Regions from separate parts of the Homo sapiens genome. Here region 1 is linked to region 2. Evidence: fine-mapped expression QTL. Tissue or cell type: whole blood. Region 2 holds a variant in brackets; the other region holds the start of a gene. All regions are shown on one strand. Distances are from middle to middle.

Region 1 (8,103 bases), 57 kb before region 2:
TGAGCCTGTGAAATTTTCAACCCACATAAGCCCCAAAGAGGTTGGCCCGACCAAGAAATGTGAGTGTCCACATCTGGTGGAGCAAAGCACTCTCTCCAGTCTGTGTGAGGATGGACTTGGTCTACGCTTGCCTTTCAGATGACCTAACTTGAAGCCTCCAAGCCCATCAATCCTCCTTTGCTGACATTCTTCTTTTACGTACTTTCATGCATTCATTTTCTCTCTCTCAATCCTGTGACCCTGGGAGGCCATTTGTGTCTTTATATGAGCTTCCTGTCTCTGCTCCAACTCTTAGCATTGGATTAACAACCCTACTCTCAGGGAATAAGCAAGCACCTCTATTTCCAAGTTCTCAGAGGGCAGATGTCCAGCCATTCTCGGATTCCAGCGGGGAAGTGAGTCCAGCTCACCTCACTCCTGTGGCTCAATTGCTTTTATGATGCTGTCACTGACTGGGCAGCCAGGGAGTGTCCAGCAGGATGAAGGGTCCTTTGTGCTGCCCTTTCTGCAGAGGGAAGCCAGCTTTGACAAGACCCTACTGCCTTTAAAACCTCATCTTCTCTGCAGTATTGTATCATAGCCTTTTGCTAAAAAGGGAAATGAAATTACTCTTCAAGCAGAGCTGTCTGAGATATTGGATTCATTTAAACGTATTTTTCATTACTTTTCAGACTAAGCCTTCTCTTCCGTGTCTCTGCAAAGCCTGGACAAACCTATAGCAGGAGGTTTGCAAGGATTTCACACATTGCCTTAACTATTGAATCATGACTTTACAAGTCATCATTCTTTGTTGCAAATTACAAAAACCCAATTCACACGGGCTTATGTAAAGAAGAGACTCTGTTGGTTGTGAGATTCTTCCATTTTCAGGCATGGCTGGATCCAGGCTTTTAAACTTCACCTGCAGAAAGCCTTTCTCCCTGTGAGGCTTTCTCCTGACAGCTCCAGGCTCACATTCTACCAGCTCTACACATTCATCACAAAGAAAGCTTCTCTTTAATAGTGTGAGTAGGATTGCCAGATTTAGCAAATATTTGGAACACATCATTGATGATCCAAAATTCAGTTCAACTGAGGTTGTCCTTTACTGACAACCTAAGTCCCATATAGGTCCTAGGATTGAATCTGGGCAATTTGGATCCTATACCCATCCTAGACCCAATCACAGTGGTCAACAGAATGGGATATGTCAGCTGGCAGGCCAAAGTCACCTGCCTATCCCCAAAAGGAGGGGAGCACGGTCAACCCTGTAGTCCACATCCACCCATAGTGCATGTGGTAATCCACAGTACTAAAGACACTGATCCTCGAAGAAAGGGGACTGAACCCTGCAAAGGCAAAACCAACAGACGCTCACTAAGGTGACTTTGAAAGTCCCAGCCGGGTGCAGTGGCTCATGCCTGTAATCCCAGCACTGTGGGAGGCCGAGGCAGGCAGATCATGAGGTCAGGAATTCGAGACCAGCCTGGCCAATATGGTGAAACTCCATCTCTACTAAAAAAAATACAAAAATTAGCCCAGCATGGTGGTGGGCGCCTGTAGTCCCAGCTACTCTGGAGGCTGAGGCAGGAGAATCACTTGAACCCAGGAGGCAGAGGTTGCAGTGAGCTGAGATCGTGCCACTGCACTCCAGCCTGGGCAACAGAGCAAGACTTTGTCTCAAAAAAATAGAAATAAAAAAAGAAAGTCCCAGACAACAGTGAAAACTATAAAACTTCATGGTGGTTGTATGGCATTCAAGAGCTTAAAAGCACTTCCATGCCATTGTTTCCTTGTGGGTATTATAATCATTCCCTGTATTAATTTGCTAGGACTGTCCCAACAAAGTACCACAGTCTAGGTGGCTTAAACAACGGAAATTTATTTTCTCACAGTTCTGGAGGCTGGAAGTCCAAATTCAGGATGTTGGTAGGGTTGGTTTCTCATGAGGCCTCTCCCCTTGGCTTGCAGACGGCCGTCTTCTCCCTGTGTGCCCATGTGGTCTTCCCTCTGTAACTGTCCCCTCTTCGTATCAGGACACTAGTCATATTGGATTAGGGTCCACCCTATAACCTCATTTTAACTTAATCATCTCTGTCAAGTCCCTGTCTGCAAATGCAGTCCCATTTTGAGGCACTGGGGGTTAGGGCTTCAGCATATGAATTGGGGGTGCAGGGGGAATGCAAGTCAGCCCCTAGCACTCTCGCTCTCATTTTTTTCTTTTATGTAAGGAAAAGCACAGTGAGAATAGTCTTCGCTTGTTTCCAATCCCAGGGCTGATTTAGCTGTGGAACTCCACCCAGTGCTGGTCCCCGCTGTCCCCACCCCACCTCTGCAAACACGGGTGCCCACCCCCGCCAGCCGCCAGGCTCCCTGCCTAGTCCCGGCACGGGACCTTCACGGTCCCAGCACCAGGCACAGAGCAGACAACGTTCTTGAAATAAGTGTTTCGTGAAAAGAATGAAACTGAGAGGGAAAGAAAAAAAAAACTAGACAGTTTTAGGAGATTTAGCTCAAAGGAAAAGAGGACAGGCACAGAAGCTCCTGATTTGAAGCGATAAAGACTCTTTAGAACAGCAGAAATGAGGCCTATGGATGTGTAAATGAGCCCGGGGAGGAACTAAGCAGAAGGGCGAATTACAAAACAGAAAAAGACCAGACAGACTAGGGGAGAACAGTGAATATTTCAGTGTCTTCGGTTCATAAGAAATTCATGAGCAATTTTGGAAATTTTGTTGGTTTTGGTGGTGGGAGAGAATTGTAAATATGTATAATATGTAAATATCTTTTATAATAAAAGCCCATGAAGATAAATGAGCCTGTCTGCCGAAAAGCTGTGAGCCGTATAAGATGTTAATATAACTGTCGTCACTCTAGAAATTACCATAATGCTTACAGGGATTTGAAAGTTCCTGAGCTTTGGAAGGAAATGCATAAATACTAAACAGAACACACACACACACACACACACACACACACACACACACACACACATCTCTTTTTCTTTCTCTTTCTTATTTTTGTAAAAACAATTTTTATCCTTTTTTTTTTGAGGAGTCTCGCTTTGTTGCCCAGGCTGGAGTGCAGTGGCACAATCTGGGCTCACTGCAACCTCCGCCGCCCGGGTTCAAGCAATTCTCCTGCCTCAGCCTCCTGAGTAGCTGGGATTACAGGCTCCCGCCACCACGCCCGACTAATTTTTTCGTATTTTTAGTAGAGATACGGGGTTTCACCATGTTGGCCAGGCTGCTTTCGAACTCCTGACCTCAGGTGATCCGCCCACCTCGGCCTCCCACAGTGCTGGGATTACAGGCGTGAGCCACTGCGCCCAGCCCTTTCTTTCCTTCTTTCTTTTTCTTTCTTTCTCTTTCTTCCTCTCTCCCCTCCCGCCTGCCTTCCTTCCTTTTTTCCTTCTTTTTTTTCTTTCTTCTTTTTTTTTTTTTTTGTGAGGAAGGTAGCTTTAGTGAAAACAGGGTTTGGAGTTGAACCTATACGGGTTCAAATTCGACTTCCGTCCACCACCGAGACCTGCGCTCCCTGAGGGACTCGCTTTCCCATCCGCGAAACCAGGACGGCGCCGCCTACACCCCGCGGCGTTCGGGGCGGGCTGAATGGGTCGCTGAGTGGGGGCTACACCCACGCCCTTCGCTCCCCGCCCCCGGGCGGAGCGACGGCCACGGCAGTGTCCCCAAGGCACCGAAACCGAGGCGGGGGTCTCGGTCCCTCCGCGCAAGGAGGAAGGCGGACCGTACGTGGCAGGACTCACCGCCCCGCACGTGGCAGGACTCACCGCCCCGCGCCGTGTTCTCCGAGCCATGGCGCCAGCGCTGTGGCGGGCCTGCAACGGACTCATGGCCGCCTTCTTCGCGCTGGCGGCCTTGGTGCAGGTCAGGCGGCCGCGGTGGGAGGGGGACCCGCCCGGCTCCCAGCTCCGCCCCCTGGCCTAGCGGGCCGTGTAACTGACTAGCGGGCAGAGTCGCAGGGGCGCACAGTTAGTGGGGAGGACGGGACTTGGGCTTTCTGCTTGGGGAGCCCCCACTTTCTCCCCCGTCTAAGAGACGCGGATGTGTTCATGGAAGCGAGTCCCATACCAGGGCTCACACCCTGGAAGGGGCTGGTTCCGCGCGTGGAACTTCCCAGGGGACCTCAGAAGAAGCGGCCCTGGCTCCTGCGTTAACGTCCGGCCCGCGGACGACACTGAACATATCTCAGGGCCTAGGAGACGAAGCCGACCAAAACCCTTTATAGCATCATTAAACTTTTTAGTCGGCTTGGGGACCCCCTTCATAATCATTTCCCTCATTTCTTGAGACTGGTGGGGGTGGAGGGCCCTTAAAATACCCGTTCTGGGTTGGCGAGTCCTCTCCAGAGCTCCCGTGAAGGCTTTTCAAAAATGTGTGGCTGCCTGTTAAAAACATCTGTTGTGTCAGCCAGAAACCCCTTCACCCGTCCTCATCTGGACTATATCCTGTTCAGATTTTGTACCCTCGATGCCTATTGCAGTGTCTGGCACTTAACAAATTAATAAAAAATGTGCTTAAATGAATTTAAAAGGAATGGAACAGCACAGGATGTCTGCTAACACCTTGGTATTCTGGCGTTCCAGGTAAATGACCCAGATGCAGAGGTGTGGGTGGTGAGTATGAGCCGCTTCCAGGCTTTCCTCCGTTTGGAAGAATTGGGGAACGGCACAAAACACACGGTTTTATGTCTTTACCCCTCCTCCCTGCTTAATTTTCTGAGAAACTTAAAAATCAAACCCTTGGGAAGCGCTTTTTCCTAAAATATTAATAGGCAGGATCAGAGTTCTAATGTAATGTGTGTGTGAATTTCGAACTTTCTGGAAACAGGTCTTTCTGCAGTATTCCCTTTGGTTAGATGGCCCAACTGAGGACTTTCTTGAGGACCTAGAGTAGGCCTCTCAAGATCAGTTGAACAATTCCTTATGAGTTTCTAGCCAGACACTCAATGCAAACCTTTGACCGGAAAATAACAGGCTTAAGTTCTGAGGTTCTGCTAATTCAGTGACTTATATTTCTAGAAAGTATTAACTCCTGGCTGGGCAAGGTGGCTCACGCCTGCAATCTCAGCACTCTGGGAGGCCAAGGCGGGTGGATCACTTGAGGTCAGGAGTTCTAGATCAGCCTGAGCAACATGGTGAAACCCCGTCTCCACCAAAAAATACAAAAATTAGCCAGGCGTGGTGGCATGCGCCTGTAGTCCCCAGCTACTAGGGAAGCTGAAGCAGGAGACTCGCTGGAACCCAGGAGGCAGAAGTTGCAGTGTGCTGAGATCGTGCCACTGCACTCCAGTCTGGGCGACAGAGTGAGACTCCATCTCAAAAAAAAAAAAGCAAAGAAAAAAAAGAAAAAAAAAAAGCAAAGAAAAGTATTAAATCCTGTAAAACCTACAGTCTTCATATAAGCAAGGCTCTGATTTGAACCATTTGGAGGAGGGGGCCATTGTTCCATACATCTTCTAAATATCTTTTTTTTTTTTTCTTTTTGAGACGGAGTTTTGCTCTTGTTGCCCAGGCTGGAGTGCAATGGCGCAATCTAGGCTCACCGCAACCTCTACCTCCCAGGTTTGAGTGATTCTTCTGCCTCAGTGTCCCAAGTAACTGGGATTACAGGCATGCGCCACCACACCCAGCTAATTTTGTATTTTTAGTAGAGACAGGGTTTCTCCATGTTGGTCAAGCTGGTCTTGAACTCTCGACCTCAGGTGATCCACCTGCCTCAGCCTCCCAAAGTGCTGGGATTACAGACATGAGTCACCGCGCCCGGCTCTAAATATCTTTTATCTTCCAAAATATCTGAATTTTGCCCAGTTTCTCTCAATATAGATACACAAGACTGTACAGTACACCAAGGAGATGACTCTTAAGCTTTAGAATAATATTGACAGAGGAGCAACAAGGATGATGGTATCTGGAATTATAACATGAAATTCTATCCAGGTTTTGTTTTTTTAGTGCAGTAAAACCACATTCTGATATTTACTATCCAGATCAGTATGCCTCTGAATCAAATCAAACTGCCTTTGCCTTGGCACCCTGGTCCGTATCTTGAATTCCAAATATTATTTCCCTGCAGACAAGTCTCAGACATCCAGCTTAATGGTGAATTTCCAAAAGACTGCTGCGTATATTCACCTGCATGTCACACTGCTCCTCAGATATGCCCAAGGACCTACCTAGCATCTTTCCCTCCAAAATCTACTTATCCTGACTCACCCATTTCTGTTATCAGCAGAATCATTCTCTGAGTCATTCTTGTTCAGAATCTCAGTCATCTTTATCATCTCTCTGTTCCTTACCACTGCCTTGGAGAGCCCCTCAAAACACAAAATAAATTTGAGTCGGGCATGGTGGCAGGCATCCGTAGTCCCAGTTACTCAAGAGGCTGAGGCAGGAGGCTCACTTGAGCCCAGGAGTTCGAGGCCAGCCTGTGCAACATAGCGAGACCCCCCCCATCTCCAAAAAATTAATTAAACAATCGAGGTCTAATTGCTTATCTCTATAGTACCTGCACATTTTACCTTTCATTCATGCTCAGACGATATAATAGGAGGAATAGACCCCATGTCCCCATAGACATCCTCCCTCATTCACAGTTCAGCCCTCCACTACCTCCCACATGGACCCCTGGCACCTGCCTTAACATCTTCTGATATAAGCACAGAAATTGATGTGATTAGACAGCTACATTGTTTGGAAAGTCCCCATCCTTCTTATAAACCCACCCTCCCTACTTATTCCCTGCCAACAACACACACAATAGTAAGTTTGGCTAGAGCCTGCTTGTTATGAACAAGGCTTAGGAATAGGGCCTCTTTAGGGCTAGTCTTCTCATTTCCAAACACTTATCAGCAGTTCCAAAATGAAGAGCCTGACCTTATTACTGGGCACAGCTGATTGTGTATGCATTATTAGAAAACTTTCTGTGGTCTCACAGAGATGCAGTACTGGCCTGGATGGTCCATTGGGTCCAAAGCCAGCAGGGCCATCTAGCATCGTGGCTGCTCCTGCCCTACTTTTCAAAGAACATTTTCTTTTATGCAAGTGGGGAAAGGCCATTTGGGCATGAAAGTTGCTTGGGAGCGACTGGAAAGTTAGTGTGTCTTAAGACCAAAACCCTGTGCTCAGTGTTAGAGCTCAAAGATAAATGAGCTTCTGGAATAGCCTATAGTCTAGGAGGAAGGTAGATAAAATTGCAGGCAGACGTGCTAAGTGCCACAAAAGGAGAATCTACCACTTTCTCAATCACCATTGAAACTTAGAGGCAAATCATGGGGCACAGCAGCCACTGATCTCATCTTTCTTTACTTCCTGTATCTCTGAACATCTCATATATTGGGCATACATCTTAACTCATGTAATTTCCTCCCTTTTTGCTAACAGGTGGTGTACACAATCCCTGCAGTACTGACCCTGCTTGTTGGACTTAACCCTGAAGTCACAGGTATAAGCCTTGCATTCTAAATGGAGAGACAGCAAATCAGATTTCCTCATAATAATGAGGGTCTATCTGCCCAACTCCCAGGAGTAAAACGGGGCTCTCTAGGCCTTTCTTCTCATTTCTGATAATAAAAGGGGCTAATTCTAATCATCCTTACCCATCTTCAGGAAAACGTCAGAAGGATCTGCTATAAAACAGCGTCTTCTGTTTTATAGAAGTGAGAGGACAGATTCTTCTTCACTTTCTTTAAAACAGTTTCTCCTAGTGGGGCTCGAATGTTCTCAGGGGCCTTAGAATAAAGACTAATGAGTCCCACCTTAGTGGGGAAAATTCTAGTTCCCTAGATGCCTGGGCTCCTTGTATAGGCAGCTAGAACTCCGTCTGCATCTTTAAGGTAGATCAGTTAGGGCTCCTTTAGATACAAGCTAGAAAATAACTCAAATGTGCTATGAGCTGAGAAGAAAAGGTATTGGTACAGTTTACTGAAAAGGTGAAGGGTGGTGCTGGCTTCAGACTGGTGGACTCGGAACTTTACCTTCTCTCCACCTCTCAGTTCCACCATCTGTCATGCTAACTTCACTCTTGGGCTCCACACAGTGGCCCTGCAGCCCCCCATTCACATCTTCACGATGCCACGTCCAGTGGAATATGGACTGTGTTTCTT
Region 2 (8,103 bases):
TTGGCCTCCCAAAGTGCTGGGATTACACGCGTGAGCCACTGCGCCCGGCCTAGTTTGTGCTTTTTACTTACCAGTTAGGGGTTATATTACTGTGTAACAAAATGGACGGTTATTTCTATTCATTAACAAGATTCAAGTAATAGCCTCTTTAGCCACATATTCCTTAATAACACCTTTAGACCTTATAGGGGTAATTATTTTCTATATACTTTTCCAATGTATTTGAAAGTTTGTTGGCTCTTCTTCCGTAATTATACTATATCCTCAGTAAAGAAAGTTTGGCATACAGAAAAGTTGAAGGAAGAAAATTTTCAATCACTGTTGTTCCACTACCAAGAAATAATACTTGGAGGTATTTCCTTTCAATCTTCAACATGAGGATGCTAATGTCCCCCTCATAAGGGGCCTTAAAGTCACTGACTCTGTGCACTATTTCATGAGAACATTGATGTGGGTATTTAACCGAAAGAAAACTTGAGTTTTCTTTTTTTCCTTTTTATTGTGAAAATTTGGAAACTTATTCAAAAAGTAGAATAGTTAACTAATTGATGTACCCATCAGCAAGCTTCAGTGATTACCACCATTTAATTTTGTCTGCACCCCCCCACCCACTGCCACCCCAGCCCATTCCCAGCATGTGCCTCTGAAAGAGACCAACTTTGTCCTTTAAAAACAACCACAGTTGGCTGGGCACGGTGGCTCATGCCTGTAATCCCAGTACTTTGGGAAGCAAAGGCGGGTGGATCACCTGAGGTTGAGAGTTCGAGACTGGCCTGACCAACATGGAGAAACCCGTCTCTACTAAAAATACCAAAGTTAGCCGGGCGTGGTGGCGGGTGCCTGTAATCCCAGCTACTCGGGAGGCTGAGGTAGGAGAATCGTGTGAATCTGGGAGGCGGAGGTTGCAGTGAGCCGAGATCACGCCACTGCACTCCAGCCTGGGCAACAAGAGTTGTCTCAAAAAACAAAAAAGAAAGAAAGAAAAAAACAACCACAGTTTCATCAGCACAGCAAAAAGGTTTTTGTTTTTGCTCTTGGATTTTGTCGTTTGGTTTTTGCTTAATATCAAATATCCAGTCAGTGTAAACTCGTTTATAATTTGGTCCTTTGATTTCAAGGAGCTATGATGCAGTTCGTTGTGGGGATGTGTTGTCTCCATGTCATACATGTGACTTTGTCCATGTTTGCACCCAGTTCAAGGAAGACACAACCCTAGGGAAAGACAACCCTCCCCGCCAAGCCTCTCTTCCCATTCTTAAACATAGGGTGGCGTTATTCAGGTTGGACCAGTTTAAAAAGACTAACGCATTTGTCCTCGTTGTTGGGTGTTTTTTTTCTTTAAATTTGTAAAACAGGAATAATTGTGTTAGGATGAAGTATGATACTAGGAGAACAGGGAAAACTAACCCATCGTGTTAAAAGTCAGAATAGTGCTTAACTCTGGCAGGAGGTGAGATGGTTAGTAATTCAGAAGGGGGTGCCAGGAGAGCTTCCAGAGCCATTGAAATGTTCAGTAGCTTGATCTGGGTGATGATTTACATACATAAAAACATATTAAACTTTGAACTTAAGATTTATGCCTTTTACTGTTTGCACCCTATAACTCCAAAAGAAAAGTAGAGGGGAAAAAGAGTCCCTGCAAAAGGCAGTCTTGAAAGAAAGCAAGTCTGTGATGTGGAGAATGCATTGGACAGCTCTCAGCAATTTGCTGTAGCTTGGGCAGAGAGATAAAAGCTAATGCCAGCATCAGGTTGCCCAGGCGAGAGAAGGCCTGAAAGAAGACAGCGTGGAGAAAGTGTCAGCAAGCTTCAGCAACAGCAGGAGGCAGATGGTAGGAGAGTGGGCCTCAGGTGTGGTGTGGCAGAGCAGAGTAGCCACACTTAGGCCCCAGAGACAGTGTCTTCTCACCCTCAGTTGAAGGGGCAGGAAATCAATCGCTCTAGTCACCCCTAAGCTGGAGGACGGACCTAAAGTTGCCACAGCTTTGAGAGGCAAAGAAGTTTGCTCAGTGGCTTTTAGAGACTTCTAGGGCCCTGGGACCCTGACACTGAGGAGGAGCAAACTGAAGGGGAGAGTGGGCACATTCCTTGTTGGCTGCTGTGGTGAGCAGCAGCTGGTCGTTGTCAGTCAAGCTCCGGACCACTCTGATGATGCTCACTGCATTTTGATGGAGTAAGCCAGGGACATTACCACTGTGTTTGAGCCATCTGAAGTATTCCTGGGTGGGTCTGCAGTTGGCAGCCCGTGATCCTTTTTCCATTCAAGGATGATGCAAAGGTAAGGGGCCAAGGCTGAGCTCTGTAGATGCCTGTGAGAGCCTCCTGGTCTCAAGAGGTCATACCAAGGGCCTTGGCCACCAAGGTTTCGTGAGGACCTTGAGGTGGTTTCGCCATCACAATGTCAGACGTGTCACACACCATCTGGTATGTCCTCACTGTATAGAGGAAGAAGGGCCCAAGTGGTGAATTATCTACAAGTTTGTAGCAAAGCTAATACTCAGACTCCCTCTACAGCCTTGCTACTCAGTGTAGTCTGTGGTCCGGCAGTGTCACACCACTGGGGTACTTAGCAGAAATGCAGCTTCTCAGGCTCCACTCCAGCTCTCCTCAATCACAGTCTGTTTTTTTGTTTGTTTGTTTGTTTGTTTTGAGATGGAGTTTCGCTCTTGTTGCCTAGGCTGGAGAGCAGTGGTGCGATCTTGGCTCACTGCAACCTCCACCTCCCTGGTTCAAGTGATTCTGCTGCCTCAGCCTCCCAAGTAGCTGGGATTACAGGCGCCCGCCACCATGCCCGGTGGCGTGCATGGTAATTTTTGTATTTTTAGTAGAAACAGGATCTCGCCATGTTGGCCAGGCTGGTCTTGAACTCCTGACCTCAGGTGATCCACCCGCCTTGGCCTCCCAAAGTACTGGGGATTACAGATGTGAGCCACCACGCCTGGCCCACAGTCTGTATTTTAACAAGATCCCCACCTCAGTCTTAGGCACATGGATTCTCCTCAACCCCCAATACCACAGAGTCTATTAATTTTTACCCAATAGGGAAGGGGAAAAAGTCAAGAAAGAATAATGAATTAAGTAATCTTTCCCCCTCCAGGAAGCTCTTTATTTAATTTCGCTCCCATGAAACACAATTTGAAGAGTCTCTCAAATAAACAAATTCCATTTTCTGATAATTATTTAATTGCCCCACTTTTGAAATTTTTGTCAAAGACGACTGTCACTCCCTGTCAGAACTTCTATTCAGCACAGTATACCAAGCGTTTCTCCATCGAGTTGTTATAATATGATCAAAAAGCAGGGAGAGATGCTGCTTGGTTACCCTGTGGGGCCTTATCGGGGCTCAGTGCAGTCTTTCCATGTAGGCATTCTCAAATACTCAATTGAAACCTGATTGAGGATCATTTGATCTCTGTTGGCCCTAGTGCAGTAGGCTGCTGAGAACCACTGATGCAATAGACTGAGAGACTAACTGCCTGCTTCCCTGTCAGCCCAGGCTCTGCTAAGGCCGTCTTAGTTACAGAAGAAAGTGGGGCAGAGAGCCCTGCAAGGATTACATTCCATTCCTAACGGAGACAGGCAAGCGTTCAGTGCCCGAAGCAGGGCAGGCCTTTGTATGGCTCACTTTTCCCTGTACCAGCCTCAGCCCCGTACATTCAGAAAGCCCTGTCGGGAACGTGCGGGATCACAGCACAAGACAGTCATTCACTGATTGATTGACGACGTCAACATTGCGGAATACCTATGTTAAGCTGAGTACGAGGGATATAAAAAGTAGGCCCTGGAGAGTGCCTCTGGGATGCACATAACCAGACAAGATAAAGAAAAGGCAGATCACGAGATCAAGAGATCGAGATCATCCTGGCCAACATGGTGAAACCCCATCTCTACTAAAATTACAAAAATCAGCTAGACGTGGTGGCGGGCGCCTGTAGTCCCAGCTACTCAGGAGGCTGAGGCAGGAGAATCGCTTGAACCCGGGAGGCAGAGATTGCACTGAGCTGAGGTCATGCCACTGCACTCCAGCCTGGCAACAGGGCAAGACTCCATCTCAAAAAAAAAAAAAAAGAAAA[AAAAG/G]AAAAATTAGGGCAGCTTTTAGACATGAGGCCCCAAAGTGCCAACTAGTGCACCTAAACTTCAACTCTCTTTTGAGTGTTTTATGTATCTACTCAGCATCCAGTTGTAAATATGCAAAAATCAATGCCTACTGTATTTAAAAATTACTAAATTCACAATAACCACACAGAATCTATAATAAATAGAATCAATGTAATAATGACTCAGATCCAGGGGAAGAAAATTATAAAATTTTGGAAAAAATGATGAGCTATTAATTAAGAAAATAGTTTGTTCCTTGGTGAGAAGACTCAATGTAAATATGTCAGTTTTCTCCTGACTTAAGTCTTCAACACAGGCCTAATAATATTGCAGTGGCAAATGATTGCCAGGGGCAGGAGGGGATTTGGGGAAGTGGTAAAAATGATCTGTGTCTTGGTAGTGGTCGCTGCACAACTGCATACATCTGTGAAAACTCACTGAACTGCGCACTTTAAAAGGGTGAATTGTAATATACATACCTCAATAAACCTTACTTAAAAATTACAGTGTCTTTTTTTTTTGTAGCTCAACAGAAAGATTCTGAGATTTGGAAAAATAAATGTGAAAAATAAGACCAAGGAGGAAAGACCTGCCTTATCAATAGTAATCTATATTGCTGAGCCATAATACTTTTTTTAAAGTGTAGTACTTATGTAGCATTTAACAGAAAGATCCAGTTGGAAATAAAAGTATGGAATAGATCCATATTATGTAAAACGTTACTATGTAACAAAGATAGTATGATGATCAAGATTATTAAAAATATTGGAACAGTGATTAATGAAATGAAACAAGTTAGGTTCTTAGTCTGTGTCCTCCTTTAAAATGAACATGAGTTTTACAATACCCACTGCCTCCTCCCTTTCTTTCTCTGGAGGTTCAGAATGAGCCTGTTTTTGTAACCACCAAAGTCAGACTAAAATAGTAGGGATGGTTTTTGTAAGCATGACAGCAAAGGCAGAAAGCATAAAGTAAACCATTACTAGGCTTGATCAAAAATATATAACAAAGAGTTACTATCACCGATATATAAGCAGTGTTTACAAATTCATAAGGAAATAAAAGATGAACACCCTGGCTGGGCGCGGGTGTTCCCACCCTGGGATTACAGGTGCTCACGCCTGTAATCCCAGCACATTGGGAGGCTGAGGCGGGCGGATCACAAGGTCAGGAGATCGAGACCATCCTGGCTAACACAGTGAAACCCTGTCTCTACTAAAAATACAAAAAATTAGCCGGGCGTGGTGGCCGGTGCCTATAGTCCCAGCTACTCAGGAGGCTGAGGCAGGAGAATGGCATGAACCCGGGAGGCGGAGCTTGCAGTGAGCCGAGATCACACCACTGCACTCCAGCCTGGGCGACAAGAGCTAGACTCTGTCTCAAAAAAAAAAAAAAAAAAAAAAAATGACCCTGAGAAAAAGCAGGGCAAAGGACACAAACAGCTTCAGAAAAGAGGAATACAAATAGTTAATAATTTAATTCAAACAGTGGAATTTTTGTCTCAGTTTGACAAAACACTAAAAGAATGATGTTACCCATTGAGGATGGGGGTAAAATGGACTCTCACATGGAAAGCGATGGAATGTGAAGTGTGGCAGTCTTTCTGGGTAGCAATTTGTTGATATACAGCAAGCCAGCTATTCCATCTTTATGCATTTATTAACAGAATCATAGATATGCACAAGAATTTGTTCACTGCAGTATTTTTGTAATAATCATGGAAATAGTAAATAATGGAAAACAACCTAGATGCCCAACTCTAGGGCATCCATAAGATACAGCAGAGGCCGGGCATGGTGGCTCACGCCTGTAATCCCAGCACTTTAGGAGCCAAGGCGGGCGGATCACCTGAGGTCAGGAGTTCGAGACCAGTTTGGCCAACATGGTGAAACTCCGTCTCTACTAAAAGTACAAAAAAAATTAGCTGGGCGTGGTGGTGCGTGCCTGTAGTCCCAGCTACTCAGGGAGGCTGAGGCAGGAGAATCACTTGAATCCAGGGGCTGGAGGTTGCAGTGAGCCAAGATCGCGCCACTGCACTCCAGCCTGGGTGACAGAGGAAGACTCCATCTCAAAAAACAAGCAGACAAAAACAATTACAGCAGATAAAACAGTGGTACATTCATAAGTGGGGTACCGTAGAACCATTAAAATAGAGCTATTGATTAATATTTAATGATCTGAAAAGATATCCAATATGTACTTTGAGCAAGTAAGCCGTAGAAGTTTGATCCCATTGTTTGCATAAGCACAAAAAATACCCAAACCTTAACAGGCATTAATAATAGTGGTGTGTTTGTGGATGGCTTTTTATTTTCCACATCTTCCTAAATGAACATATATTAACTTTGCAGTAAGAAAGAGTCATTATTAATTGGGCACTGTGGCATGTGCTTGCAATCCCAGCTACTAGGGAGGCTGAACTAGGAGGACTGCTTGAGCCCCAGAGTTCAAAACAAGCCTGGGCAACACAGTGAGACCCCCATCTCAAACAAGCAAACAAACAAAACACTGTAAATTTCACTTGGAGAAACTGACAGTGAAAAAAAAGATCATTAGGAAAAATAGTCTAGTGTCAGTAAGATAGTTTATCTCTGGGTCAATTTCAGTCAAGTCATTTGCTTCCTACAATACAGCACTAAGTATGATTATGAAGCCGTGGCCAGGCTCAAATGTTGGGTGCTGTGATCCACTGATGATGCCTGCAGGGGTTGTGGGTAAAAGTAGTATCTCCCTTGACCTACTACTCTTTGGCCATGGAACAGAAATGCTGGAGTTTATTGTTGCAGTGTGTGCTTGATTGCTTTTGGTTGGAGAGAGGCATTTCGGAACTCAAGCCTATGAAGGAAATGTTGTTGGTAATGTACTGTCATGGACATTCCCCCTGGAGAATGTCACACGTGGGACTGATAACCCAGCTGCCTCTGCCTCCCCACCTTCAACATACATACACGCTTTGAGATAAAGCCAGTGCTTTGGTCCAAGTAAATCTCTCTTGTGCCTTAAATCACAGAATCAGAAGATAGCAGAGCTGAAGATGATTTTTTATTTTATTTTCTTTATTCCTTTTGAGACAGGGTCTCAGTCTGTCACCCAGGCTGGAGTGCAGTGGTGCAGTCGTGGCTCACTGCAGCCTCAAATTCCCAGGCTCAAGCAATCCTCTCACCTCAGCGTCTGGAGTAGCTAGGACTACAGGCACATACCACCACGCCCAGCTGATTTTTTTGTTTTTTATTTTTTGTAGAGATGGGGTCTGGCTATGTTGCCAGGGCTGGTCTTAAATTCCTGGGCTCAAGAGACCCTCCCATCTCGGCCTCCGAAAGTGTTGGGATTACAGGCGCAAGCCACCGTGCCCAACCTGAAGATGACTTAAGAGGTCATTTAGTTCAACTCCTCTTTTTTTTTTTTTTTTTTGAGATGGACTCTCACTCTGTCACCCAGACTGGAGGGCAATGGCGTGGTCTCAGCTCAGTACAACCTCCATCTCCCAGGTTCAAGCGATTCTCCTGCCTCAGCCTTCCTGCCTCAGCCTCCTGAGTAGCTGGGATTACAGGCGCCAGCCACCATGCCTGGCTAATTTTTGTATTTTTAGTAGAGATGGGGTTTCACCATGTTGGCCAGGCTGGTCTCGAACTCCTGACCTCAAGTGATCTGCCTGCCTGGGCCTCCCAAAGTTCTGGGATTACAGGTGTGAGCCACCGCACCCGGCCTCAACTCCACTTTTTTGGTAAGAGAGGAGGAAATTGAGGCCCAAATATTTAAGAAATTTTAATTTGTATAGGGAAAATTATTTGTCCTGTAATCCTAAAAGATGCTATTAGGGCTCACATCCCTGCGGGGCAGCAGGACATCCTGGGACATGAGGTCTTCCCACAGCCCTGTTGCCCTGGGCAAACATTCCCCACTGAGTCATAGTTTCCCCATCAATCAAGTGGGGATAATTCCACCTGCTCTGCCTAACCCCTGGGATTGTAGAGAGGTTCAGAGGAGATAAGAAACAAATGGGGAA

Evidence for each region. PIP is the estimated chance that this variant, and not a neighbour inherited with it, causes the effect.
Region 1: it holds the start of TMEM220, and the variant in region 2 is fine-mapped to the expression of TMEM220 in whole blood (INTERVAL, PIP above 0.99).

The regions. Positions count from the first base shown.
Region 1 is chr17:10,725,543-10,733,645 of GRCh38, reverse strand. It overlaps TMEM220 (transmembrane protein 220), which reads left to right and starts at 3,623. Exons shown (of 6, transcript NM_001004313.3): 1 at 3,623-3,866; 2 at 4,586-4,615; 3 at 7,382-7,442. The coding sequence starts at 3,795. It overlaps TMEM220-AS1 (TMEM220 antisense RNA 1), which reads right to left and starts at 3,869. Exons shown (of 4, transcript NR_073458.1): 1 at 3,746-3,869. RefSeq lists enhancers at 2,998-3,584, 3,585-4,171 and silencers at 3,565-3,804, 3,815-3,984.
Region 2 is chr17:10,668,972-10,677,074 of GRCh38, reverse strand. It overlaps SCO1 (synthesis of cytochrome C oxidase 1), which reads left to right. Exons shown (of 6, transcript NM_004589.4): 6 at 1-4,601. It also overlaps a transcript of MYH3 not described here. Among named protein-coding and RNA genes, the nearest start is that of MYH3, 16 kb to the right of the region's middle. The variant AAAAG/G (reference allele first, on the strand shown) is at 4,073.